7 linked regions of the Homo sapiens genome follow. The protein of the gene in region 4 purifies or fractionates together with the protein of the main gene of each other region. This does not show direct contact. Each region holds a gene or a part of one and is shown on either strand. Other genes may lie near its edges. The genes, in order: EPB41, CROCC, HSPA12A, KRT222, CCDC102A, TACC1 and CEP164.

Region 1 (3,500 bases), on a different chromosome or scaffold from region 4:
TCAGTCTGGAGCAAAGTACTCAATACACTGTTGACTATTACTAGATAATCTGAAGATAACAACCAAAAACAGTTACAAAACATACAATGAAAAATAAAGCTCAGCCTAACAGTTATAATTTATGGACCTATTATGTTTAAATCAGCAGTCATGACTTCCTGGAGAGCAGGGCTTAGAGCTATGTATACTACCAAATATACACGCACAATTATTAATTCTTGTTTTTTTATGATAAAGTGTTAACAGCTCCAGAAATGATGTTAAATGTAGGAGTTGACTCTATTCCTATATAAACTCAGCATAAGACAATCTTAGGTTCTTAAAATTGATGTTAAGTATATTAAATTAAAAATATGATCCCTAAGTCAAGAAGTTACATTAAGGCACAATGAAATCATATTTATATGCCTCTTTATTAAAGACAACTTTAAAAAATTAAATATGTAATATTAATCATCTATGTCTATAATTCAAAGAAAATAAATTTCACCTAAGTTAGTCCCTACAGCTAACAGTTTGTTTAGCTAAGTAATCAAAACACAAAGTTAAATGCTTCTTGACTACTCTTTCCCCCAAAATGAGTATAGAGAAATATATTAGTGCCTACACGTGTTATAACAGAGAAGCAGGAATTACATACAGTTCCAATTCAGTGACTATGTAACTGAGAATTTCCCAGAAGATGCCCTCTTAAATTTTTAAAGCTTGTGGGTATAACTACATTTCACTTTGGAGAAACAATTTGCTTTACAATATTTGGGAAGGGAACATGCTGCCTGACTCCATCAATACCTGAATTGACACCAGCTTCCAGCAGGAATTGTGAAGCAAAATCTAACCATTTCAGTTTTAGAAACATACCTAATCTGATGTACTGATCTTCCTACAATATACTTTAGAGATTCATAGAAGTTGTAGTACCCAGCCCAAAATAATCCAGAACAACTTTTTTCTTTTTTTTTTTTTTTTTTAAGACAGAGTCTCAACTGTCACCCAGGCTGGAGTGCAGTGGTGCAATCTAGGCTCACTGCAGCCTCTACCTCCTGGGCTCAAGCAATCCTCCCACCTCAGCCTCCTGAGTAGCTGGGACCACCAAAGGCACGTGCCACCATGCCTGACTAATTTTTTGTATTTTCTATGGAGACGGGATTTCACCATGTTCCCCAGTCTGGTCTTGAATTCCTGAGCTTGAGCGATCGGCCGCCTCAGCCTCCCAAATTGTTGGGATTACAGGTGTGAGCCACCACGCCTGGCACTGGACCTCCCCAGCAACTTTAGTAGCTGAAGAAGAGAGAAGTAAGGAGACTTTCCTTAAGGATTCATTCTGTTAGGCTGTATTAGGTAGAACTAGGATTAAAGCTCAAGTTTCCAGGGCCCTACCCAAGTGGTTTTTGAATGAGCCACTGTGGTTCATTCAGTGTGCATCAGAACAACCTGGAGAACTTAAAATGGATTGCTGAGCTCCACCTCCAGAGAGTCTAACTCAGCAGGCCTGGGATGGGGCCTGAAATGTGCATTTCTAACAAGTTCCTAGGTGATGTTAAATGTTGCTGGCTCAGACACCATACTTTGAGAACCACTACTCTAGGCCAGTGGTTCTCAGATTCAGGCATGAATTAGAATCATTTGGGTGCTCATTAAACCAAGACATTCTAGAACCTCGCCTCCAAATTAATTCCATACATCTGAGAGAAGCTCAGGGATCTACATATTTAATGAACATCCTCAGTGATTCGATGTAGGTGATGCTGGCTGTGAAACAGGACTTGCTGCCCACTGCTCTATATTTTCAAATGTTACTGCATGTTAGGAAAATCAATTTCTTTTTCTCTAGGGGCTATCTTTTGATCTTAACAGTAGCTTGGATATGAAACTTTATTCTGAGGGTGGAATTGCTATGGGGCAAATTCAATTGATACAGTTGACTGATTTAACTGATACACTTAAAATGCTAACAAGAGGCCGGGCACGGTGGCTCACGCCTGTAATCCCAGCACTTTGGGAGGCCGAGGCGGGCGGATCACGAGGTCAGGAGATCGAGACCACGGTGAAACCCCGTCTCTACTAAAAATACAAAAATTAGCCAGGCGTGGTAGCTGGCGCCTGTAGTCCCAGCTACTCAGGAGGCTGAGGCAGGAGAATGGCGTGAACCTGGGAGGCGGAGCTTGCAGTGAGCCGAGATCATGCCACTGCACTCCAGCCTGGGAGACAGAGCAAGGCTCCATCTCAAAAAAACAAAACAAAACAAAAAAAAGCTAACAAGAAGTACTATTTCTCTCTCTTTTTTTTTTTTGAGACGGGGTCTTGCTCTGTCGCCAGGGCTGGAGTGCAGTGGCACAATCAGGGCTCACTGTACGCTCGATCTCCTGGACTCAAGTGATCCTCCCGCCTCAGCCTCCCCAGTAGCTGGGACTACAGGCATGAGCTGCTGTGCCCAGTCTACTATCTCTTTTGAATGTTTTAAAATACCCCAGATGTTGTTAAAAAGTATTATATGACACAGATGTGATACATACATAACAGACATGTATCATATAATATCTTCCACATGCATATTAATAAAGGGCAAAGTTATCATTACCTTTGCTTTATGAAGATCAACTCCATACATAGACAACTTTTTGGCATTCTCAAGAAACTCCAAGTCAGCCTGAGCTGGAGTCATGGACCTTTGATAGAATAAAAACATAAAATTCTTTCAGTGTTATAGTGTCATCATTTACAGTAACATTTATATATTCACTGTATTTTAAACACATGAACATATACATACCACTATATTAAGATATATTTCCTAGTCCTGAAAGTAGGTTATTATGGAACAGAACCCATCACTGCCTGTATCTAAATAATTAAAATATACCTTAGAAAAAGACAATGTGAGCAAACAAAAAGTCACCAAAAAGCTGCAAAAAAAATTTTTTTAATCCTACTAAACAATTTCCTTAAAGCTATTTCATCTATCATTAGTTCTGCCCCCTTCTCTTCACTCTTTTTCTCCGACATACATAAGCTCCTCCCGCTAATTTTTCTTGCCAAGGAGATGACCAAATTAAATCCTCAGAGGGCATGGTGTAATTTACAATATCCTCTTATAGCTGCCTTTTTCTCTCCATACCCCTGAATTGAGTTATGGAAATTAAACAAGAGGGCAGCTGATGTTACTTAACTGAGGACTCTTAATCGGGGCAGGCTTGATGAAAAGAAAATTTCTGGTAACAGATGGTGTCCTGCCCACTGATATAAACAAAATAAACTGGTTCACGGAAGCACATAGATAATGGGGCTGTTTTCTCTGTTATTAATATGTCTTCATTACCAGGCATATAATGAATTAGATTTGTTTGAAAACAGTCAGTCTCACTGTCTAAACACTCGCTGTGACAGTCTTTTCTTCTCCTCTATAAATTTCCCGTCTTTTGAAAAGTGTTCATGAGCTGTTATATAGAGCTTTCAAAGACAAAAATATCACTCCTAATGCTGCACAATTCAGACCAATC
Region 2 (3,267 bases), on a different chromosome or scaffold from region 4:
GAAGCTTGGGGACAATGAGGCTGGCCCACTCACAGAGCAGGCGACGGTGAGGCCCACATCAGAGAATTGTCACCTGAAGCCAAACCTGTCTCTCTCAGTCTGTTTCTCCATCTGTATAACAGGACTATGCTCTGAATGAACCATGTTTCCTTACTGGAGGCTGCACCAGGGTTTGGGATGAGGTTGAGATGGGTGGGAACGTCCCCACCCTATCCTAGGGCCTCACAGTCTTGGGGACAGAGGGGGCACACCCTGGCCCTCACCTCCCGTAGCTGTTGTAGCTGGCCCTCGGCCTCCACCCGCTGCAGTTCCAGGTCAGCCACCTCGCCTCGCAACGTCTGCACCTGCTCGCCCAGGGAGCTGCTCTGCTTCCGTGCCTCAGATAATGCCTGCCGGGCGGCATCCAGCCGTTCCTGGGGGACAGGGGCTGATGGTGCCTGGCTGGCCTGGGAGCCCTAAGGAGTCCTCTCTATTCTGTACCTCTGGACAGGTCCACAGAGCATAAAACAGGCAGTCATCTCACCTGGAGGGTGGGGTGCACACCAAACCCATCCACGGCCTATCCACTGACCTGCATAAGGTGGGACCCACTCAGACCCCAACTCTCCCCAATAAACCCTGCCCCTGGGTCCCCCCAAGTCTATACCAGTAGCCTTGTCTTCTTACGGGACATACCCAGAGCCTCTTCTCCTTGGCTGATGGTCTACTGGGCCCACGCCCTCCCTTCAAAGCCTGCTCTCATTGGCTCCAACTGACTGCCCCATTGGCTGGCTCTCTACCAGGGCCCCCCTCCAAGCCTGCTCTTACTGGCTGACTCTCTCACTGGGCCCACCCCAGCCAGACCCTGGGCCCGAGACCTGGAGTACTTGGCGGTCATGTTCACAGGCGGTCAGAGCCTTCTGCAGATGCAGGTTCTTGTCCCGGGTGCTGTTGAGGCTGGCACTGCTCTGGGCCAGGGCCTCTGTCAGGCCCCGCACCTTGTCCCGCAGGGCCCCCTCGCTTTCCTCCACCTTAGCCAGGGCCCCATTCAGCCGCTCCACGGTCAGCTGCAGGGTCCCTGCCTTCACCTCGCTGTCGGCCACCTGGCAGGAGGACAGCCAGAACAATCGGGGCTGTTCCCATCTGGCCTCTATACCTCTGCTCCCACTGTGACCTCCACCTGGCATGCCCAATCCACACCCTTCCCACTTCTCTCTGGGCCTCCATCATTGAGACCCAGTGTTCCTAAGCACTCCTGCTGGCTCAGCCTACTGCCACCTGGGCCCCATCCCATTGCTGGCTAACTACTAGTGCCCAGAGTGCCATCAACCTAGTTGTCTCAGACTCCCTGGTCTCCTCCCTGTCCTCACTCCTCTCTCCTCTCTGCTGTGGAAGAGAAAGGGAAACCACCACGACCCTAAAATTTTTTTATTTTTGACCTTGTTGGGTGTTCAGGCAAGGCTAGCCGTATTATTTAACATTCCAGTTAGAGCTGAGCTTCCTAGCAGTCAAGGCAAAAAGGGAAATGAGTGAAACCTACATCTCTAACTTGTCCCAGATGACTCCTATGTATGCAGATGCTGTCATCAAATAGTCCTGAATTCTAATTTTGGCTCTGCCTCTTACTAGCTATGGGATCTTAGACAATGACATCACCTCTCAGCCTCCATTTGTCCATCTGTGAAATGGGGATGTGGGTAATACTTGCCTCACAGGGTTGTTGGGGGACTGCGTAGTGCCTACAAAGCTCTTGGCACAGGGCATGTGAACACTGTGGCTGTGATTTGGGGAGGGGCCCACCTGTCTCTGCAGGGAATCCACCCGATCCTGGAGGGCCTGGGCTTGGGCCTCGCGGTCACTGAGGCCCAGGCGGCTGCGCTGCAGCTCCCCCTCAAGCGAGCGCCGCTGCAGCTCCAGCTTGACAGTGCGGCTCTCGGAGGCGTCCAGAACCTCCTTCAGGCGCCGCTTGTCGCCCTCCAGCTTTGTCTCATTGGCCTTCATCTTGCTGATCTTCTCCTGCAGGTGGCATGGGGCTCAGGCCCAGACGTCCAGTGCACCCCGCAGCCCTCCCGCACACGCCCTGGGGCCCTTAGGGGGAAAGTGGGGAGCAGCCTCGAAGGGTGACCTACGTGACCTGGGGCCGGCCTGGGACCCTCTGGGGTCCTCGGTCTCCCCATGCGTTCCCAGGATGAGTGGACGTGAAGATCCCAGAGCCCACCTTCCAGTTTTAGCCCAGGCCAATGGGCTGTGGAACCCAGGACTGCCCCTTCGCGCCCTATGGCCCCATTTCATATCTGTACAGTAGGGACACTGGATTGGTCCCAGGGTACCACAACCTGGGTGCTCACAGGAGCCCTGAGGAGGGGCTGTAGAAATGCAGATTCCAAGGCCCTTCTCCTGCCCCACTGACTCGTGCAAACTGAGCTGAGCCGGACAGTTCTGAGGGGGCCCTGCTGTTCTAGGGTTTCAGGTGGTGATTCCCCCTCCCCTGCCCAGGGTCAGCCAGTGAAAAAGGCCTGGGGAGTGGGGATGGGACAGGAAGGCAGACTAGGGGTCCTCCCATCCCTGGTACTATCCTAGAGACAGGGTGGATCAACAGGGGGTGTTATTAGAGCCTCCCCAGCCCCTATCCTGAGCCTGGCCCCTCTGCCACCCTGCCCAGAGCCCCAGCCCTGCCCTGTCTGGGGCCCCCACTCTGGCTCCTGCCCAGCTTTGTTCCTGGCCTCCTCCTGCAGCCCCTGCGGCTGGGCCCATGGCCAGGGTTGAAGCCGCAGACACAACAATCCAGCTAAGCTCGGCCCCAGGCCAGAGGCCTTGGGGGCGGGGGTGGTGGGGGGAAGCAGTAATAGAGGGACAGGCTGGGGAGGGCAGAGGGGAGCTTTGGCTGCACTGTCACCACCAGGGCCTGAGTTTCCTGCCCGACAGACGCACATACACACTGGCACACATAGCTGTCCCCCAAACACACATAAAAACCCCAGAACTACAGAGACATAAAACAGAGGCCCCCTGAGTACCACCTGTGATAAGAGCCTGTGTGTGTCACCCTGTGACGTAATCACTGCTCCTCCTTTTACAGATTAGGAAAATGAAAACCAGGCAGATGACAGCCCAAAGCCCAAGCTCTCTTTCTTTTCTTCTTCTTCTTCTTTTTTTTTTCTTTTCTTTTTTACAGGGTCTCACTCTGCCTTGCTAGAGTGCAGTGGCATGATCACAGCTCATTGCAGCCTCGACCTACCGGGCTCCAGTGATCTTCCCACCTCAGCCTCCCGAGTAGCTGGGACTACA
Region 3 (3,500 bases), on a different chromosome or scaffold from region 4:
TGAGGTACAGTTACCCACCCCACTCTCCAGTTAGGAAAGTGGATCTTGGAAAGATTAAGTACCTTGACCAAAATGGCACAGCTGCTAAGTATGTTTCCTGCCTCTCTTTTTGTTTTACTCAGATATAATTTCCATACCATAAAATTCCCAGTTATAAAGTGTGTAGTTCAGTGGGTTTTCGTATATTCACAAGGTTGTGCGCCCAACCCCATTACCTAATTTCATCACTCCTCAAAGAAACTCATATCCTTCAGCAGTCGCTCCTATTCCCACTCCCTGCAGCCCTGCGCAGAAAAAGTCTCTGCTTTCTGTTTCTGTGAAGGTGCCTGTTCTGGACATTTCATAGAACTGGAATCACATGCTATGTGGCTATCTGTATCTGGCTTCTTTCACTTCACATGGCGTTTTCAAGGTTTCTCCATGTGGTAGGATGTATCAGTAGTTCATCCTACTGATGAATAACATTCATTGTAAGATAGATCACATTTTGTTTCTGGCTGAATAACATTCATTGTAAGATAGATCACATTTTGTTTCTCCATTCATCAGTGGATGGGCATGTGGATTTTTTCCGATTTTCGTCGTTGTGAATAATGTTGCTATGCACATTCATGTATACGTGTGTTTGTGTGGACAGCATGTGGACTGTTTCTACTTTTCACAGTTATGAATAATGTTGCTATGCACATTCATGTATACGTGTGTGTGGACATCTTCTTTCATTTCTCTTAGGGATTTCATTTCTCTTAGGGATTTCATTTCTTCTTTCATTTCTCTTAGGGATTTCTTTCATTTCTCCACCCAGGAGTGGAGCTGCTGGGTCCTACGGTAACTCTGTGCTTTACTTTTTTAGGAATTGCCAAACTGTTTTCCAAAGAGGCCGCACCATTTTACTTTCCCACCAGCAGCGTGTGAGGGTTCATCCTGTTGTGTTGACTCCAAAGCCCACACTCTCCCTCCAGGCTGTGCCTCCTACCCTGGCCAGCAGGTGCAGCAGCCCGAGACACGGAGCTGGCACGGGTGCCACCGCCTAGCACACAGCTGGCTGGCCTCAACTATCAGTCCTACCTTCAGCGCCTGCTCCTTAAAGTACTGCAGGGCATAAGCAAAGATTTCAAGGGCTTTGACTTTCTTGCCATTTGCTGCCGTCAGGTCTGTATCCATGGTGAGGTCCTGGTAGGAGGAAGAGGAACAATAGTAAGAAGATGACACAGGAGAAACATGTCTCCTGGCTTTGGGGACTGCTCCAAGGGGACCTAGAGGATCCTGGTGAGCCATGTCTGTGTTCCCCCATGCTTAAAGAGGCAGACTAGGATGGCGCATCCCCCAAAATGGGGGCTGGCAGCAGTGTCCCCTTACTGTGTAGGAGGCTCTGGCTGTCCCCTCCAGGCCCCACCTTCACTGCTCCCTCCTTCTCTCCCTCTAGCTCCTGGATCCTCTGGGAGCAAAGGTTTCAGGGGCAACAGTAGAAGTCAGGAAGAGAGAATAGGCAGCAGGTGCCACTCCCCATGCAATTTCCGTACAATTTCCACATTCGAACACACATGGTCACGCTCAGGATCCCCCCTGATGGAGGCCTAATCGTACCAACCCACTGCCATCCACGATGCTAAACAGACGAAGCTTTCATTCCCCATTACGCTGCCAACCAAGTCACCAAAATAGAAGAGCTCCTATTTTAAGGCTTGCCCTATCTAATCCGCCAGGAGCCCAGCATCACTGCTTTCCTCTCTCCACCAAAAGTGAAAGCAGCTGCTGAGTGTGGTCCCAGAGAGAGGATGCTCTGCAGAGCCTAGATGCTGGTGGACGGAGATCATTAAAAAATGATGAGAAAAGTCCCTGTGGGGTAGGGATGGGCAGGGAGTGAGAGCAAAAATCAGGAGGAAGCCCCCAGGTCTCCTGAACCAACAAACTCATTACTGCCAGGGGGAAAAAAATCACTGGGGCCTCCAGATTGTCCCAGGCTGGGTAATTATGCTTTGCCTTGGGAGTGAAAACGGGCATTGAGTTACTAAGCTAGCCATGTGGAGCCCGTCTGTGGCATCCTGACCTATCTGCACTTGCTCACTCCTCCCAGCCAGCTGCCTTCTGCTCCTGGTGCCCAACAAAGATACCCCAGCTTTAGGGCAGCAGCTCCCAGGCTCAGAAAGGTGGTCAAGTGCCAGGAAACCATGGCTCTGAATTGAAAAAAATCCCTGTGCTTCCTTCCACCTGCCATCCTGATACTCAGCATTGAATCCCATTAGGCAAAATAGGAACAGTTCATTTCTAGCAGAACTTGGTCTGCACCATAGAAGGACAACCACGCCGATGGGCACAGAGCCTTGAAAGGCAGGGTGCTGGCTGCTGAGTTTCCCACTTATGTTTGCTTTGTCATCTGCAAGTGCTCAGCAGACAAATGAAAGCAATTAGAATAGGAGCTTGCACTTGACTAGAACTTAATCTGCACCAGGCATGGCTCTAAGAGCTTTACGTATTTTGATTCCTTTAATCCCTACAAAATCCCCATGAGGAAGGCACTGCTATTGTCTCCATTTGACAGAGAAGATAAAACAAGGCAGGGAGGGGTTACATAACTTGGATTACATTTCTCAAAGGTACCAGTGACCAGATTGAAACCCAGGCCATCTGGCCCCAGAGTCCGTGTTCTTAAACATCATCATCATCCTGCCTTTCTAAGCACTGACAGTTAAGGAAACTTTATGGAATAAAATGCTTAACTCAAAAAAGTTCTGTCCTATGCCCTATCCTTTTCTACGAAGCTTCGGGGTGGCAGGGGGTGCCTGTTTGATGTAGGTGTCTTATGGAACACTGGCTTGCTGGGAGCTGAGGACACCACTCAGGGAGTTGGACCTCCAATTATTGGGCACTTGATGTCCTGAGCTCCCCCTCCCCACATAAAGAGCTGGATGTACCAGTTGTTACTGGTTGTTACATCCAAACTGGTTAGTTAAGAGCTACTGCCCTGAGCTCGCCATGTGTCCCTAGCCCCCAAGTGGATCCTTCATGATACACTGATCTCTCAATAATCCAGAAACTAAAGGGAGAACTCCTGGCACAGCAGGAGGGCCCCAGCACCCCACTTCCCTGGTATAACCAGGGTCTACTCTGATAGGTCCATTTCCAAGACAAACGAGTTGTTAAATATTCAGAATATCTCCCTGCCCACATGCACATTGGAAAGCATCGCATATTCCACAAAAGCACTGTGTGCTCCAGGTTGTGTCTAAAATCAAGGTAAATGGACACTGATTTCTGCTTGGAAGAGACCAGAGGGCCCCCTGGGTTGGGAGGACATCCCTTCCCCACCCCAAGGCTGGAGGAAGCTTGGCACTCCATTGCGGGGGACCTGGGCCCAGGGGAGAGGCTTGCTCACCCCAGTGGTGTGCAGCTTCATCTTGAACTTCTCCAGGTACAGCCACTGCTTGGCCTCATTGGGATCCAGGTCATGGTAAAAGTCCCTGGCGGCATACCCGAAGCTGTGGAACTTCCTCTCGGGA
Region 4 (3,500 bases):
GATTTAATAAATGTCAAGATTTATTATAGGCTAAAGTTGTTTCACCTAGTTTTCATCTAGTTTTATAGAGGACTTAGAATTTGGAAGCAAGCAAGAATAAAGATTTTTTCATGGAGAATTGGAGGTTATGTCATGCTCAAAGCAATATGACCTTATAAGTCATTACAGATTATGATGTATGAATTAACAAGAATTCCTCTTTTGATATCTTTTCCTATCAGGATATCTGGTAGTCTTTTAAATCATGACTCAAAATAATATTGCTTTCCGTGGTTGTAATATAATTACGTTAGAGTAATGATTACTGTTTTGAGGTTTGATGTGTGGTATAGGGTGAGCCCTTGATCAGGGGGATTGTGGTGATTGTGAATTTTCCAGGCTTTTGTTATGGGTGATCCTTAGAAGGCACAGACTAATCCTAGAAGAGATGAATGGCAAGGAAAGTGAGAAAGTTAGGAAAGGTCTCTCTCTCTCTCTCTCTTTTTTTTTTTTTTTTGAGGTGGAGTCTCACTCTGTCGCCTGGGCTGGAGTGCAGTGGCGCAGTCTCGGCTCACTGCAACCTGCCTCTCCTGGATTCAGGCGAGTCTCCTGTCTCAGCCTCCCGAGTAGCTGGGATTACAGGCATGCACCACCATGCCCGGCTAATTTTTGTATTATTATTATTGTTTTTTTCTTTTAGTAGAGACAGGGTTTCGCCATGTTGGCCAGGCGGATCTTGAACTCCTGACCTCAGGTGATCCGCCCACCTCAGCCTCCCGAAGTGCTGAGATTACAGGCGTGAGCCGCTGCACCCAGCTCAGGAAAGGTCTTTTTCATGATTAGCTCATTGTAATCCCAAACTCCTTAAGCAATCCTCCTACCTTAGCCTCCCAAGTAGCTGGGACTACAGGTGTGTGCCACCATGCTCAGCGAATTTTAAAATTTTTTGTACAGATGAGGTCTCACTATATTGCCCAAGCTGGTATTGAGCTCCTGAGCTGTAGTAATCCTCCTGCCTCAGCCTCCCAAAGTGCTGGGATTACAGCAGTGAGCCACTGCAGCTGGCCAAGACTACAAGATCATTTTTGTAGTAATCTAGAATTGTTTACATTTTGTTCTAGGTGACTTTGGCTGTTTGGTTCCTAATTTTGGAAGACTAGAAATGGTTCTTTCATATATTCTTTGCAGTGCATACCTTATTGTATGGGCTCAGTGAGTACACCATGATGATGATGGGGTTTTTGGATTTAATTTCTCTGACTACATCAACAATGGCATAAGTGGCTCTGTATTTCTGGCCCCTTGTCATTAACTAAATGGATTTAGGTACCTGATTTCTTCTTTTTCTAGGAGGTGGCGATAAGTTGCTATTTCTTGTTCCAGCCTCATCTTCGTGTTGAGAAGCATCTCGTGCTCTTGAAGCTGCTTTTCGATGCCGCGCCTTACTTCCTGTAGCTCTTTTTCTAGTCCTTCAATCACAGTCTCTAGGTCTTGCAGCTGCATCTGGTAATGCTGCTCGCTGGCATGTAGGGAGTTTTCAAGGCCCCTTTCCTGTTTTATATAGATTTTCATCAGTGAATCAGTAACACAGAATGTGTTTCTGAAATCTGATTTGCAATATCTTCATCTTTTTTTTTTTTTTGAGATGGAGTCTCACCCTGTTGCCCAGAGTGTAGTGCAATGCCATGATCTCGGTTCACTGGAAACTCCACCTCCTGGGCTCAATGATTCTCCTCCCTCAGCCTCCCAAGTAGCTGGGATTACAGTCGCGTGCCACCACGCCCGGCTAATTTTTTGTATCTTTAGTAGAGGCGGGGTTTCATCATGTTGGCCAGGCTGGTCTCAAACTCCTGACCCTGTGATCCGCCCGCCTTGGCCTCCCAAAGTGCTGGGATGACAGGCTTGAGCCACCGCGCCTGGCTGTCTTCATTCTATGTTCTATTTTTTTCTTTAAAAAGATTGCAATAATTTTATTATACCTATGCAAGAGGTGTGTTTCCTTACAGCTTTGTGTGACCCCTAATTATTAAAAAATTATATTTTATTTACATAACTAGAGATCTTACTCTATTTCAAAGACATCCTGTGATAATTCTTACTGAAAAAAAAATCCTCTGCAGTGTGATTAACTTATTATCACTCTGAATTATCTGATTTTTAAATTATTGAAAGTATACTTCAGAGGTAGGCTTTGTAAAAAAAAAAAAAAAAAAGAAAATATAGTACATTGAGTATCAAGGCCAGAGCAGACTGCTCATAAAAGGCATTTAGGAACATGCTTAAATACTTTTTGTTTGTTTGTTTGTTTGAGACAGTCTCGCTCTGTCGCTCATGCTGGAGTGCAGTGGCATGATCTCAGCTTACTGCAGCCTCTGCCTCCTGGGTTCAAGTGATTCTCGTGCCTCAGCCTCCAGAGTAGCTGGGATTACAGGCGTGTGCCACCATACCTGGCTAATTTTTTGTATTTTTAGGAGAGATGTTTTCGCCATGTTGCTCAGGCTGGCTTCAAACTCCTGGCCTCAAGCCTTGGCCTTCCAAAGTGCTAGGATTACAGGCGTGAGCAACTGTGCCTTGCTCCAAACATGCTTAAATATTTTTCTTTCTTTTTTTTTTTCCTTTTCTTTTCTGGAGACAGAGTCTCGCTCTGTCACCCAGGCTGGAGTGCAGTGGCATGATCTTGGCTTACTGCAACCTCTGCCTCCCAGGTTCAAGTAATTTTTGTGCCTCAGCCTCCTAAGTTGCTGGGACAACAGGCGCGTGCCACCATGCCTGGCTAATATTTTGTATTTAATAGAGATGGGGTTTCATCATGTTGCTCAGGCTGGTCTCAAACTCCTGAGCTCAGGCAATCAGCCCACCTCAGCCTCCCAAAGTGCTGGGATTACAGGGGTAAGCCACAGTGTCAGCCTAAATATTTTTTATTCGACGTCTCAATGGCATGGATAAAAGAATCTCCACTGTTAAGACTTTGGATAATAACGAATGCTCTATTCCCTATCTTCAGCAACTAGAAAATCCCAAGGTAATAAGAAAGGATTTCTTCATTTTTACAGGTCTGAACTAAACCTTGAGTGAGTTGGTAACAGCCACTGCCACAATGGAGGGAGGGGTGAGTAATTAAACTAGGATCAGGGATAGAATTCAGTGGCCTTGATTTCCAGTTTCTCATGGTAAATAAACAGACATTCATCTTTTCCTTCTCTTAATCAAATCACATCTGAGGACTCGATGGGTCGGTTACTTTTGGGATCATTCTCACCACAGCATGGAGAGATTCAATTTCCACTTGCAGGTGGTGCCACTGGCGTCGGGCCTCCTTGAGTTCTGCTTGAGCTGCCTTCAAAGCCTCTTCATCTTTGTCCATTTTTTTGCTTATGTCTTCTTCTAGCTAACAAGAAAGCCAACAGCAACAATAACAAACAAAAAACAAGGAGTGCTTCTGAAAATGAGATGTGTAAAAGCAATTATAGAAAAATTGTATAGGAATCAAAGCATTTTTCCTTAACTCATTAGATTATAAT
Region 5 (3,500 bases), on a different chromosome or scaffold from region 4:
CTCCCTGTAACACACGGATGAGTTTTCAACACATAATGTTGAGGGAGAGACACCAGATACAAAAGAGAACCTTTATAATTTTCTACTAAATTGTACATTTGTGTTTCATTCGCTTTTCTTCGAATGATTATACTTCATAATTTGAAAAGACTAAAAGAACAGGGTCCTGGACCCAGCCCTGAAAGGTGCTGATTCAGGAGGGTGGAGGCGAGGTCTGGGAATCTGTATTTTAGGAGATTTCCTCAGAGATTCTCATGTAAGACCAGTCTTGGTCCCCTCCAGGACAGTTTCAGGCTCTAAAGTTCTGTGATCCTCCCAGCTGCTAGAAACCCACCGATCCAGTGTGGCGTTCCCTGGGTGGCTGCGCCCTCTGGTGGCCATTGAGGCCTGCACAGGAGGCCGTAGTGGCAGCTCAGCCTGCTCTGAGCCCCCACACTGCAGTGGTGGATTCCCTTCTCTGGAGCCTCAGTTTCCCTATCTGTAAGATGGGGACATGAGGACCCAGCTCCCTGGGCTGCCATGAGGCTTCAGTGACACCTAGTACAGATAGGAACCCAATGAATGCCACATCCAGCCTCCTCGTCTTCATCCTGGTCTACAAGGCCCCCTCCTGCGGCCTCGCCTCTCACTTCCTGCTCTCCAGCCACCTGGCCCTCCCTGTTTCCCGCACACGCTGGGCTTGTTCCTGCCTCAGGACCTTTGCACCGCTGTGCCTTCTGCCAGGAACACTCTCCCCTGTATCTTTTCAAGGACAGCTTCCTCTAGCCCCTTTAGGTCTTGCCTCAAATGCCACCTTCTTAGGCCTTCCCTGACCTACCACCCCATCTCTCTCATTCTGTTTTGACTCCTTCATAAATTATGAATCTGCCTGGTGACTGTCGGTCTCCCATGCCCACAGCCCCCACAAAGTGAGCTCCTGAAGGCAGGGACCTTGCCTGCCCAGCACTCAGAACAACTCAGAAAAAATAACATAACATAACATAACATAACATAACATAACATAACATAACATAACATAACATAAATAAAATAAAATAAATAAAATAAAATAAAATAAATAAAAATAAATAAAATTAAAATAAAATAAAGCCAGGCACTGTGGCTTACACCTGTAATCCCAGCACTTTGGAGGCCGAGGCAGAAGGATCACTTGGGTCCAGGAGTTCGAGACCAGTCTGGCCAACATGGTGAAACCCTGTCTCTACTAAAAATACAAAAATTAGCCGGGCGTGGTGGCGGGTGCCTGTAATCCCAGCTATTCGGGAAGCTGAGGCAGGAGAATCGCTTGAACCCGGGAGGTGGAGGTTGCAGTGAGCCAAGATCACACCACTGCACTCCAGCCTAGGTGACAGAGCAAGACTCTGTCTCAAAAAAAAAAAAAAAAGAACAACTGTTGGATGAATTAATGAATGAATTCTCTCTTCCATCTCCACTACTGAAATTCAACAGCGCGATCCTGCCGCCTCCAGGAAGACCCTCTGGTCTCCAAGACTCACCTGCTTGAGCATCTCCTGCTTGGTCTTGCTCAGCTCCTCATACTTGATCTTCCACTGGCTGAGCTCCCCCTCTAGCTTCTCAATGTTCCTGCTCAACGCCAGTTTATCCCTGGGGAAGGGACAGACATGGGGGTGAGCCCACCAAGGCCCTCTGCTTGGAGTCCTCACCAAGGGTGGCCCTGCTGTGTGCCCTCTGCACTTGTTGAGCCCAAGTCCAAAATCCTTGCCTTGGTATTCAGGCCCAGGCACCCTATGTGGCTAGAAGCACCCTGGCTTTGCAGTTCTCCTGGAACTGCATTCCCTATCCAAGTGCAAGTGCCCAGCTCACATTGTGGGGAGGTGGTCGGGGTTCCAGAGCACTGAGCATCCCCGGGCAAGTACCTCTCTCCTGCTGCACCTCAGGCTCATCTGAAAATGGCTCCAGGAGGTGGCGGCCCCAGCACTGGCCACTCCACTCCTTGGCCCACCTTGTTCTTCTCGAAGAGCTGTCAAAGACCACCCTGCTCCTGTCTGTTTTGTAGACTATGTTCCCTGCAAGGCTTGGTCTGAACACATGGTTCTGCAGATAGAAACACTGGAAAACACTGTCCAGTGACCCGAAGAGAGGGTTCTCTCTTGCCATCGACACTGTGTGGGATCCCTACATCCTCCCATAACCCCCACCCTGCCTTGATCTTGAATAAGGCACTGTAGGTAACAAGCATGATGCCTGGCCCTGGCAGAGTAGGTGCTCACCAATGGCTGAGCTCAGCATCACCTTCCAGCACGCTGCCCTTCATGACCCCACACCACACTGGCCTCTCTCTCTGAAAGTGGAACACTCCATGCCTCCAACATGGGGTTCCCAGAGGGGACAACGTCACCCTGTAGGAGGCATGTTGAAAACCCATGGCAACATTTTTGGCTATCACAATGATTAGGGGTCATTTAGTGGACGGGGGCCAGGGTGCCTGACTCCCTGCAATGCCCTGGGCGTCCTGCCCATCAGGATGCATCCTGCATCCTACTGAATGCATGCACAGCCCACTGGACATTGCTCGGGGTAGAGATGATCTGAGCCTACAGCCTCATTCTGATTTACATTGAAACAGAAAGTAATTTTTATACTAACATACACTGAATTTTCTAGGAATGGAATCACTGTATAAACTGAAGGAAGACTGCACTTTTCTTTGTTTTTAGAGAGAGGATCTGGCTCTGTTGCTCAGGCTGGAGTGCAGATCACAGCTCACTCCCTGGAACTGCACTCCCTACCCAAGTGCAAGTGCCCAGCTCATATTGTGGGGAGGTGGTCAGGGCTCCAGAGCACTGGGCATCTCTGGGCAAGTACCTCCCTCCTGCTGTACCCCAGGCTCATCTCTTAAAGACTACCCTGTTCCTGTCTGTTCACAGCTCACTGCAACCTGGAACTCCTGGACTCAAGCGATCCTGCCACCTCGAGCTCCCAAAGTACTGGGATTATAGGCATGAGCCACGGTGCCCGGCTGCACTTTGCTTTGTTCAGAACTTTACCAAAGGCTGTTCATCTCTCAAGAAAGCGCATCGCAGTGACACCACTTGTGTCTTTGAGTTGCTAAGTCTGCACACCTGCATGAGCCGCCTTTGTAGCTGTCCTGCGAGGTGACTTAAATGTGCAGATACATGTAAGCCTTCAACACAACACCTGACTCGGAGCACATGCTATGTCTTTGCTGTTATAACTATCGTCACTATCATCCCATTTAAAGACACCCACTCTGACCACTTCACCATTTCTTCTAGAGGAGCTATGCCCAAGCACTCCCATATCACAACACGTGTATTTTAAGTTACTTTCAGGCTGGGCGCAGTGGCTTACACCTGTAATCCTAGCGCTTTGGGAGGCCAAGGCAGGTGGGCTCCCTGAGCTCAGGAGTTCGAGAGCAGCCTGGGCAACATGGTGAAAACCTGTCTCTACTAAAATACGAAGAATTAGCTGGGCGTGGTGGTGTGTGCCTGTAGTCCTAGCTACTCGGGAGGCTGACA
Region 6 (3,500 bases), on a different chromosome or scaffold from region 4:
GTGGTTCAAACCTGAAATCCCAGCATTTTGGGAGGCTGAGGTGGGAGGATCACTTACTTGAGCCCTGGAGCTCAAGATCAGCCTGGGCAACATAGCAAGACCCCATATCTACCAAAATATATATTTCATATATATATAACTTGATGGGCCCTGAAATTTTGTTTTGTTTTTTTTTAAGAACTACTTTATTGAGATATAATTCACAAACCATACAGTCCACCCTTTAAAATATATGATGCAATGGTTTTTAGTAAATTCACATAATCGTGTGACCATTGATGGGCCCTGAAATTTGGATTTCACATTATTTTCACACATCACCATTAAACCATCAAAAAATGTAAAACTCATTCTTCTGTTCAGGGCCATGCAAAAAAACAGGACAGGCAGGGCTTGGTCTATGAGTCACAGTTTGCTGATTCTGATCGAGACTACCAAAATTGTGTCAACAAACAACTTGGCATTCCCTCACAGGCCTGAGGCAGTAAATATCTGTGCACAGATCCCATTTATCTCTTTTCTTCTATTCTGGGGAAAAGTCCAGAGAACTACAGTTTGTGTTTGAAATACCTAGGCATTTAATTAACACATCAAACTGGAGAGGTTTAACGAGTTGTTCCAAGGGTGATGTGAGAGCTTCTACACTAATTAAGATTCTCTTTCTCAGAGAGAGGTAACAATCTGTAGATAAAGGTGTGTGTGTTTGGGGAAGGGGGGCTATGTTGGTGAAGGAGAAACTCAAGGGGCAGAGGGCACCCACTGCAGTTTTTGTGACTGAAACAGCTACACAAAGCCACAACCCCTAAGTCCTCCATAAACACACATGCAAACACAAAAGCCAGGCATGGTAGCTCACGCCTGTAATCCCAGGACTTTGGGAGGGTGAGGCAGGAGAATCCCTTTAGGCCAGGAGTTCGAGATCAGCCTAGGCAACATAGCAAGACCCTATCTCTACAAAAAATAAAAAAACTGGCCAGGCGTGGTGGCTCACGCCTGTAATCCCAGCACTTTGGGAGGCCAAGGCGGGCGGATCACGAGGTCAGGAGATCGAGACCATCCTGGCTAACACGGTGAAACCCCGTCTCTACTAAAAATACAAAAAATTAGCTGGGCGTAGTGGTGGGCGCCTGTGGTCCTAGCTACTTGGGAGGCTGAGGCAGAAGAATGGCGTGAACCCAGGAGGCGGAGCTTGCAGTGAGCCGAGATCGCACCACTGCATTTCAGCCAGGGCAACAGAGCGAGACTCTATCTCAAAAAACAAAACAAAACAAAAAATTAGCCAGGCATGGTAGTGTGTGCCTATAGTCCCAGCTACTCAGGAGGCTGAGGCAGGAGGATCATCTGAGCCCAGGAGTTGGAGGCTGCAGTAAGCTATGATCATACTACTGCACTCCAGTCTAGACATAGATCCTGTCTCAAAGCAAAACAAAACAGAGGATGAACTTGAGATTGTACCTCCTCAAAAGTCCATTCCTAGAGGATGTTTCTTCACCAATATATTTCCCAGCAAAGAGAAAGACCACCACAACAGCAGCAGCATTAAACAACTTTAGTGGGAGAAAACAGACAGATAGCAAATACAGACCAGCCCAAGCTTTACAGCTACCAGTCTGGTTATTTCCAGGAAATATCTTTAGCTAGAGTTTTATTTTACCAGTAAGCCTAAAACCTGCTTCTATATGTGGCTTCAAAAAAAATCTACAACCTTATCCGCCACTTAACTCCTGGCATACAACTCTTAGGAAGAGTCATTATAGAGTTTAGATACTGCAAGTTCCTAAAGCAGTTCCAGTATAAGAAAAGTCATTTCAAAATAGTCTTAGATGTTTCCCTGAGTTCAAAGAACTATACAGAAGTCAGCACAGGAGCCATGGGTATGGTAAATGTAGCCCACACGTTTGAGGGCCATTATGTACCAGGAAGCCAGAATGTTTACATATTTCAACTCCAACTCCTGACTAACTCCTCGTAAATCATTCTTCCAGAATGATTTAGTCTTATATAATTTATAACTGCGGTCCAACCATGTCTTGGAACCACAAAAGTATGAAAGACTATCTTTACCAGGAACAAAACAATCAATAATTTTGGGAGAAAGGGAACTTATCCAGTCCCAGAAATTAAACTTCAATATGAAATGACTCTGAAGGGCTTTCTGCCCACTGAAATCCTCTCCAGGCAGACCTGTGCTCTGGCTGTCTTTGCACATTTGCTGTGTATGTGTGACAAGGCCATTGGCGGTACTCTGGACTAGCTCCGGATGTTGCACCCAAGGACCCTGGAAGTCAGGGTACGACCAGGTTGATGAGCAATCATCCTATTGTTTAAAGACCCTAAACTGAAAGCCTTCATAATATGCAGGGTTGTTTCCTGGACTGGACACTCCTCTACCCCTACAATTACAGTCTGCATTCATGAACTACCCCATAGAGCCTTCATGATCCATAAACATTTAAAAGTTTTCCTTTTAGAGAGAATGAAAAAAATGTGAGAGTCACTGGTACAGGAAGGACCAAACAATTGGGTCTCTGTGGTTTTGGGGGCCTAGGTCATCCAGGCCTCTATTCAATTGGCAAAGAATCTGGCGGGATGAATCAGTCTAGCAGCTGACAAAACGATGAGGAAGGGCCGCCCAAGCTGATGGCAATTCAAAAAGGCTTTCAAACAGCTCCTTAACATGTGTCTTATGAGCTTTATTTAAATTTGATGGAAAGGCCACCAAATAGTTCTTTCAAGCTTCAAAATCTCCCTTCTGATCTGCCAATCTTTACGGAAGAAAAGGGAAGCTATGAGGAATAAGTGTTATCTTCATCACTGAGAGTGCTACACAGCTATGCGTCGCACACAAATTCTCCAGTATATAAGCTTGCCTATTCCCATGTTGTCCCTGCCTAGAACAATGGCAAAATGCAGCCTAGGGCAAGTTGAGGGTATTGCTGAATTCTCAGCTGGGTAAGCACAGCATGGAGCTATCAATTTAAAGCAAAACCAAATCAGCTTTTTGCTGATGTCATTTTACCAATAATTCCAGCTCCATCATGCAGTCTATTACCAGAGTAACTTGACTTCCCTAGGCAACCTACGAAGAAGTTGCTAAGCAATAAAAATACTTATTAGGGAGAGGAGAAAGTCACAATCAGCACAAAGTTTAGGTAGCTAGATAACTGAAAGCTGGCGCTGCCACTTCAGGGTGACAGTGCCAGATACTGGAACAGAGAAACCACATAAAAAGGACTTCCATCCTAGAGTCCCTTCTCCACACAGCAGCCCAGGGAGCCTTTTACAAAAGAAGCTGAATCACAATCCCTCTGTTCAAAGCTCTCTGTTGTGGGCTGAATTATGTCTCTCAAAATGATATGTTAAAGTCCCAACTCCTAGTACCTATGAATGTGACCTTATCTAGAAATAGTATCTCTGAAGATGTTACCAAGTTAAGATGAGGTCAAACTGGATTAGGGTGGGCCCTAACTTCAACGACTGGTGTCCTCACAGGAAGGGCA
Region 7 (3,500 bases), on a different chromosome or scaffold from region 4:
GAGCCTCCACCCTGTCCTACACCAGAGGGGAGTCACTGAGGGCTCTGGTGAAACAAAGTATCACAGGGTGGCCTTTTTTTAGGACAAGAATTCTGGCAAGACTGGCATGGCTGGATTGGAGAAATGAGAGACTGGTGTCAGGAAAACCACCTGAGGAGGCTGCTGCCCAGGGGCGAGATGATAAGGACTTTAACTAGGGCAGAAGCAGGGGAATGAAGAAGAGACAGTCAGAACAGACCCAGTGATGTTAAGCTTAATAGGACCAGGATATGGGGGAAAAGTGGAAAGGAGCTACATCCCTTCAAAATTCACATATGTATATATTTTACTTTTTTTTTTTTTTACAGAGATGGTGTCTCACTATGTTGCCCTGGCTGGTCTTGAACTCCTGGGTGCAAGCAATGCTCCCGCCTCAGCCTCTCAAAGTAAGAAAAATACACATATTGAAGCCCTAATCCACAATGTGACTGGTTCTTTAGGAGGTAATTAAAGTTAAATGAGGTCATTAAGGTTAAATGGCCTGATAGGATTAAAAGGAGAGGAAGAAAGGACCAGGAACCAGGGCAGCAGATGGGGCCCACTGTCTAGTGGCTTAGAGGTCTCTCTCTACCATCTGAGGACACAGCAAGAAGGCAGCTGTCTGCAAGACAGGAACCAGCAACAGACTTTGATATGGGCCTTCTAGCTTCCAGAACTATGAGAAAAGAGATTTCTGTTGTTGGAGCCCCCCAGTCTACGGTATTGTGTTACGGCAGCCCAAGCGAAGACAGAAGTCCAGCTTGAATCCAAGGTTTCTAGCTCCAGGGATGGGGCGGTGCCAAATTCTTCAACTGAGAAGCTGGTGCACTTCTAGAATTGCTCCTCTCTTCCCACCCCTACCTCAGGACCCCAGTTCCCACCAACTCTCCCCATGGCAGCTCCCATGCTGCAGCCTGATGAAGGAAGTCGCCTGGGAAACTGCTGCCACACACAGACCTGCTCAGAGCACCTCCCCAACCTGCAGAGCAGTTGGCCACACCAAATGTGACCAACAGGAGTCTGGAGCCACAAGTCCTGACCTCTCCAGTCCCCACTTCCTCAGAAGCTGCCACTGTTCCTCCTGGAGCAGCAAGGATGAAACGGCCCTCTTCAAGCAGAAAGGCCCAGCCATTAAAAACATCAGGATCTGGTAGAACGCATCAAGCCCAGGCAGCCGTGGAAAGGCTGGAGGACACACCTAAACATGTGGAATCCCAATGCCAGACAGCCAGGGCCAAATCCATATCCCCCAACACTGGGTGCCCTGGAGGTTCCAATCCTGCCCACCCACCACCTATCAATCCACCCTTTCCCCCAGGCCCCTGTCCTCCTCCCCTAGGAGTTCCCCAGGGCAATCCAGCTTTCCTCCCAGGTGGGGCCCCTCATCCTGTACCACAGCCAGGGTATCCAGGATGCCAATCCTCGGGTCCCCACCTTCCTCCATACCCACCGCCTGCCCCTGGAATCCCTCCTGTGAATCTCTTGGCTCCTGGCATGGTCAGACCAGCAGTGACAGCGGACAAGAAGATGCAGAATAAAATGAAGAAAGCTCATAAAAAGATGCACAAGCACCAAAAGCATGGCAAGCATTCCTCCTCCTCTTTCTCCTCCTCTTCCAGCAGCGATTCTGACTGAATACAGGCCCTGGACCCTTCCCTCAAGTCTCACCAGTTCTGCTCTCCCATCAAGCTTCAGAAGCCATGTTGTACTGGGGGAAAGTAGCCCTTGTGCTCCCCCCACCCCACCCCCAACCTGAGCCTCACCCTGCTGTTGAGCCCTGAATGGATAGGGAAAATGGGAAGAGGATTGCCATGGCCTGGCCATCTTCTTGCTGCTTGGATAGATCAGATAGCTAATGAGTTTAGCAGGGGAGCTATTTTTTTGAAGATGATGAACTAAATATTGAAGACAAGTTTGAGATCTGTAAAATGTGATTTTTTTTTACTTCTGCTTATAATACTTGTGATTGGGGAGGTTTGTGGAAATTTAATTATGATTAGAAACCTCTATCTTTTTTGTAATGTTGGCATACTTGGGGAATTTAGTGGCAAATACATTCCCCAGCAGGCCTTTTGTTGGTTGCACTAACTGCAAGTTTGGTGGGAAGTAGAGTCCGTTTAGTCGATGAGCTTTGACCGCCGTTTTGGAACCTTACCTCTCCTCCTTAGCCCAATATACTCTCAGGTCCTATTCTCATTCTCCAGCTCTCAGTCCAAATAAAGTTATTTCTCCTGGTTGAAAAAAAAAAAAAAAAAAGTCAAGATCTGGCCTAGAAAGGAAATGGCTGGATCTGGAGACTCTGAACCTATTCCAAGGTTCCTAGAGACCCCTGACAAGCAACAAAGGATCCATCAGGGATTGTTTACTATGGCCCCCCTCTGTACCATGACAGCTAACGGGTGGGCAACAGAGGAGTCCTGCCTTAGGACTCACAAGACATGGTTCCCTTTGTCAGTGCACTGAACCTGAAGGGAGCCAGCTTCTGCCCCTCATTCCCACCATGCCACCTCCAAGCAGGAAGAAAACACCAAAGGAAAAGGGCTTCTTTCAACAGTACATAAGCTGAAGTGGGAATGTGCTCCCAACCCTCAGAAGAACCCGTAACATCCTGCAGACATGATGCCCCACTGTGCTACACACACAGTCAGAGGCGACGCAGGCCTGACCACTGCTGACTAAAAAGCTGAGCAGAAAAGGACCAGGAACCCGGGTGGCAGATGGGGCCCACTGCCTGGTGGCTTACAGAGTCACCTGAATCTTTAATCCTCTTAGGGAGAGGAGAAGAAAAAAGGAAAGGATCCACGGGCAGGGAGGGCCCAATGGTGGCCTGAACATTAGGGTGAATAAGCACTTCCCAAGCATGTGCTCTATACGAGGTACTATCTTAACTACCTCAGAGAATTTGAGAAATTCTGCATTTGAGAAATGTCATCCCCTAGATGCATCCCATCTCCAGCAAGCACAGGACAGGTAGTCTCTGTCCACATGGCAACAAGACTAATTTGCTATATACATAATGATCTATATTTACCTTTTTTTTTTTTTTTTTTTGAAACGAAGTCTCAGTCTGTCACCCAGGCTGGAGTGCAGTGGCACGATCTTGGTTCACTGCAACCTCTGTCTCCCAGGTTCAAGCTAGTCTCTTGCCTCAGCTGCCCGAGTAGCTGGGATTACAGGCACCCCCACCATGCCTGGCTAATCTCTGGATTTTTAGTAGAGATTAGATTTCACCACATTGGCCAGGCTGGTCTCAAACTCCTGATCTCAGGTGATCCACCGGCCCTGGCCTCCCAAAGTGCTGGAATTACAGGCAGGAGCCACCGCACCTGGCGATATATTTAACTACTTAAAGATCAGGAAAACTCTGGGAAATCTGAATTCATGGATCATCCAAATTCAAATAAATGTTCTGCCAGAAAAAAATTAAAATATGGGTGGGTTGTATTCTACCTTCTTTCCTTACCTTATCAGGCTCTAGAAAA

The links.
Region 1: the proteins of KRT222 (region 4) and EPB41 purify together in Homo sapiens (affinity purification with mass spectrometry; one large-scale study listed by BioGRID and IntAct). This does not show direct contact.
Region 2: the proteins of KRT222 (region 4) and CROCC purify together in Homo sapiens (affinity purification with mass spectrometry; one large-scale study listed by BioGRID and IntAct). This does not show direct contact.
Region 3: the proteins of KRT222 (region 4) and HSPA12A purify together in Homo sapiens (affinity purification with mass spectrometry; one large-scale study listed by BioGRID and IntAct). This does not show direct contact.
Region 5: the proteins of KRT222 (region 4) and CCDC102A purify together in Homo sapiens (affinity purification with mass spectrometry; one large-scale study listed by BioGRID and IntAct). This does not show direct contact.
Region 6: the proteins of KRT222 (region 4) and TACC1 purify together in Homo sapiens (affinity purification with mass spectrometry; one large-scale study listed by BioGRID and IntAct). This does not show direct contact.
Region 7: the proteins of KRT222 (region 4) and CEP164 purify together in Homo sapiens (affinity purification with mass spectrometry; one large-scale study listed by BioGRID and IntAct). This does not show direct contact.

What each region holds. Positions count from the first base shown.
Region 1 is NC_000001.11:29,029,569-29,033,068, reverse strand, and holds part of EPB41 (protein 4.1), read right to left. Parts: intron 2,670-3,500; coding exon 2,582-2,669; intron 1-2,581. UniProt on the Homo sapiens protein: Protein 4.1 is a major structural element of the erythrocyte membrane skeleton. It plays a key role in regulating membrane physical properties of mechanical stability and deformability by stabilizing spectrin-actin interaction. Recruits DLG1 to membranes.
Region 2 is NC_000001.11:16,966,931-16,970,197, reverse strand, and holds part of CROCC (rootletin), read right to left. Parts: intron 1,996-3,267; coding exon 1,780-1,995; intron 1,083-1,779; coding exon 858-1,082; intron 414-857; coding exon 264-413; intron 1-263. UniProt on the Homo sapiens protein: Major structural component of the ciliary rootlet, a cytoskeletal-like structure in ciliated cells which originates from the basal body at the proximal end of a cilium and extends proximally toward the cell nucleus.
Region 3 is NC_000010.11:116,697,567-116,701,066, forward strand, and holds part of HSPA12A (heat shock 70 kDa protein 12A), read right to left. Parts: coding exon 3,377-3,500; intron 1,174-3,376; coding exon 1,069-1,173; intron 1-1,068. UniProt on the Homo sapiens protein: Adapter protein for SORL1, but not SORT1. Delays SORL1 internalization and affects SORL1 subcellular localization.
Region 4 is NC_000017.11:40,658,678-40,662,177, forward strand, and holds part of KRT222 (keratin-like protein KRT222), read right to left. Parts: intron 3,368-3,500; coding exon 3,239-3,367; intron 1,531-3,238; coding exon 1,310-1,530; intron 1-1,309.
Region 5 is NC_000016.10:57,519,572-57,523,071, forward strand, and holds part of CCDC102A (coiled-coil domain-containing protein 102A), read right to left. Parts: intron 1,606-3,500; coding exon 1,497-1,605; intron 1-1,496.
Region 6 is NC_000008.11:38,790,236-38,793,735, reverse strand, and holds part of TACC1 (transforming acidic coiled-coil-containing protein 1), read right to left. Parts: intron 1-3,500. UniProt on the Homo sapiens protein: Involved in transcription regulation induced by nuclear receptors, including in T3 thyroid hormone and all-trans retinoic acid pathways. Might promote the nuclear localization of the receptors.
Region 7 is NC_000011.10:117,334,354-117,337,853, reverse strand, and holds part of CEP164 (centrosomal protein of 164 kDa), read right to left. Parts: intron 3,221-3,500; exon of another isoform or gene 3,050-3,220; intron 2,250-3,049; 5' UTR 2,174-2,249; intron 1-2,173. UniProt on the Homo sapiens protein: Plays a role in microtubule organization and/or maintenance for the formation of primary cilia (PC), a microtubule-based structure that protrudes from the surface of epithelial cells. Plays a critical role in G2/M checkpoint and nuclear divisions.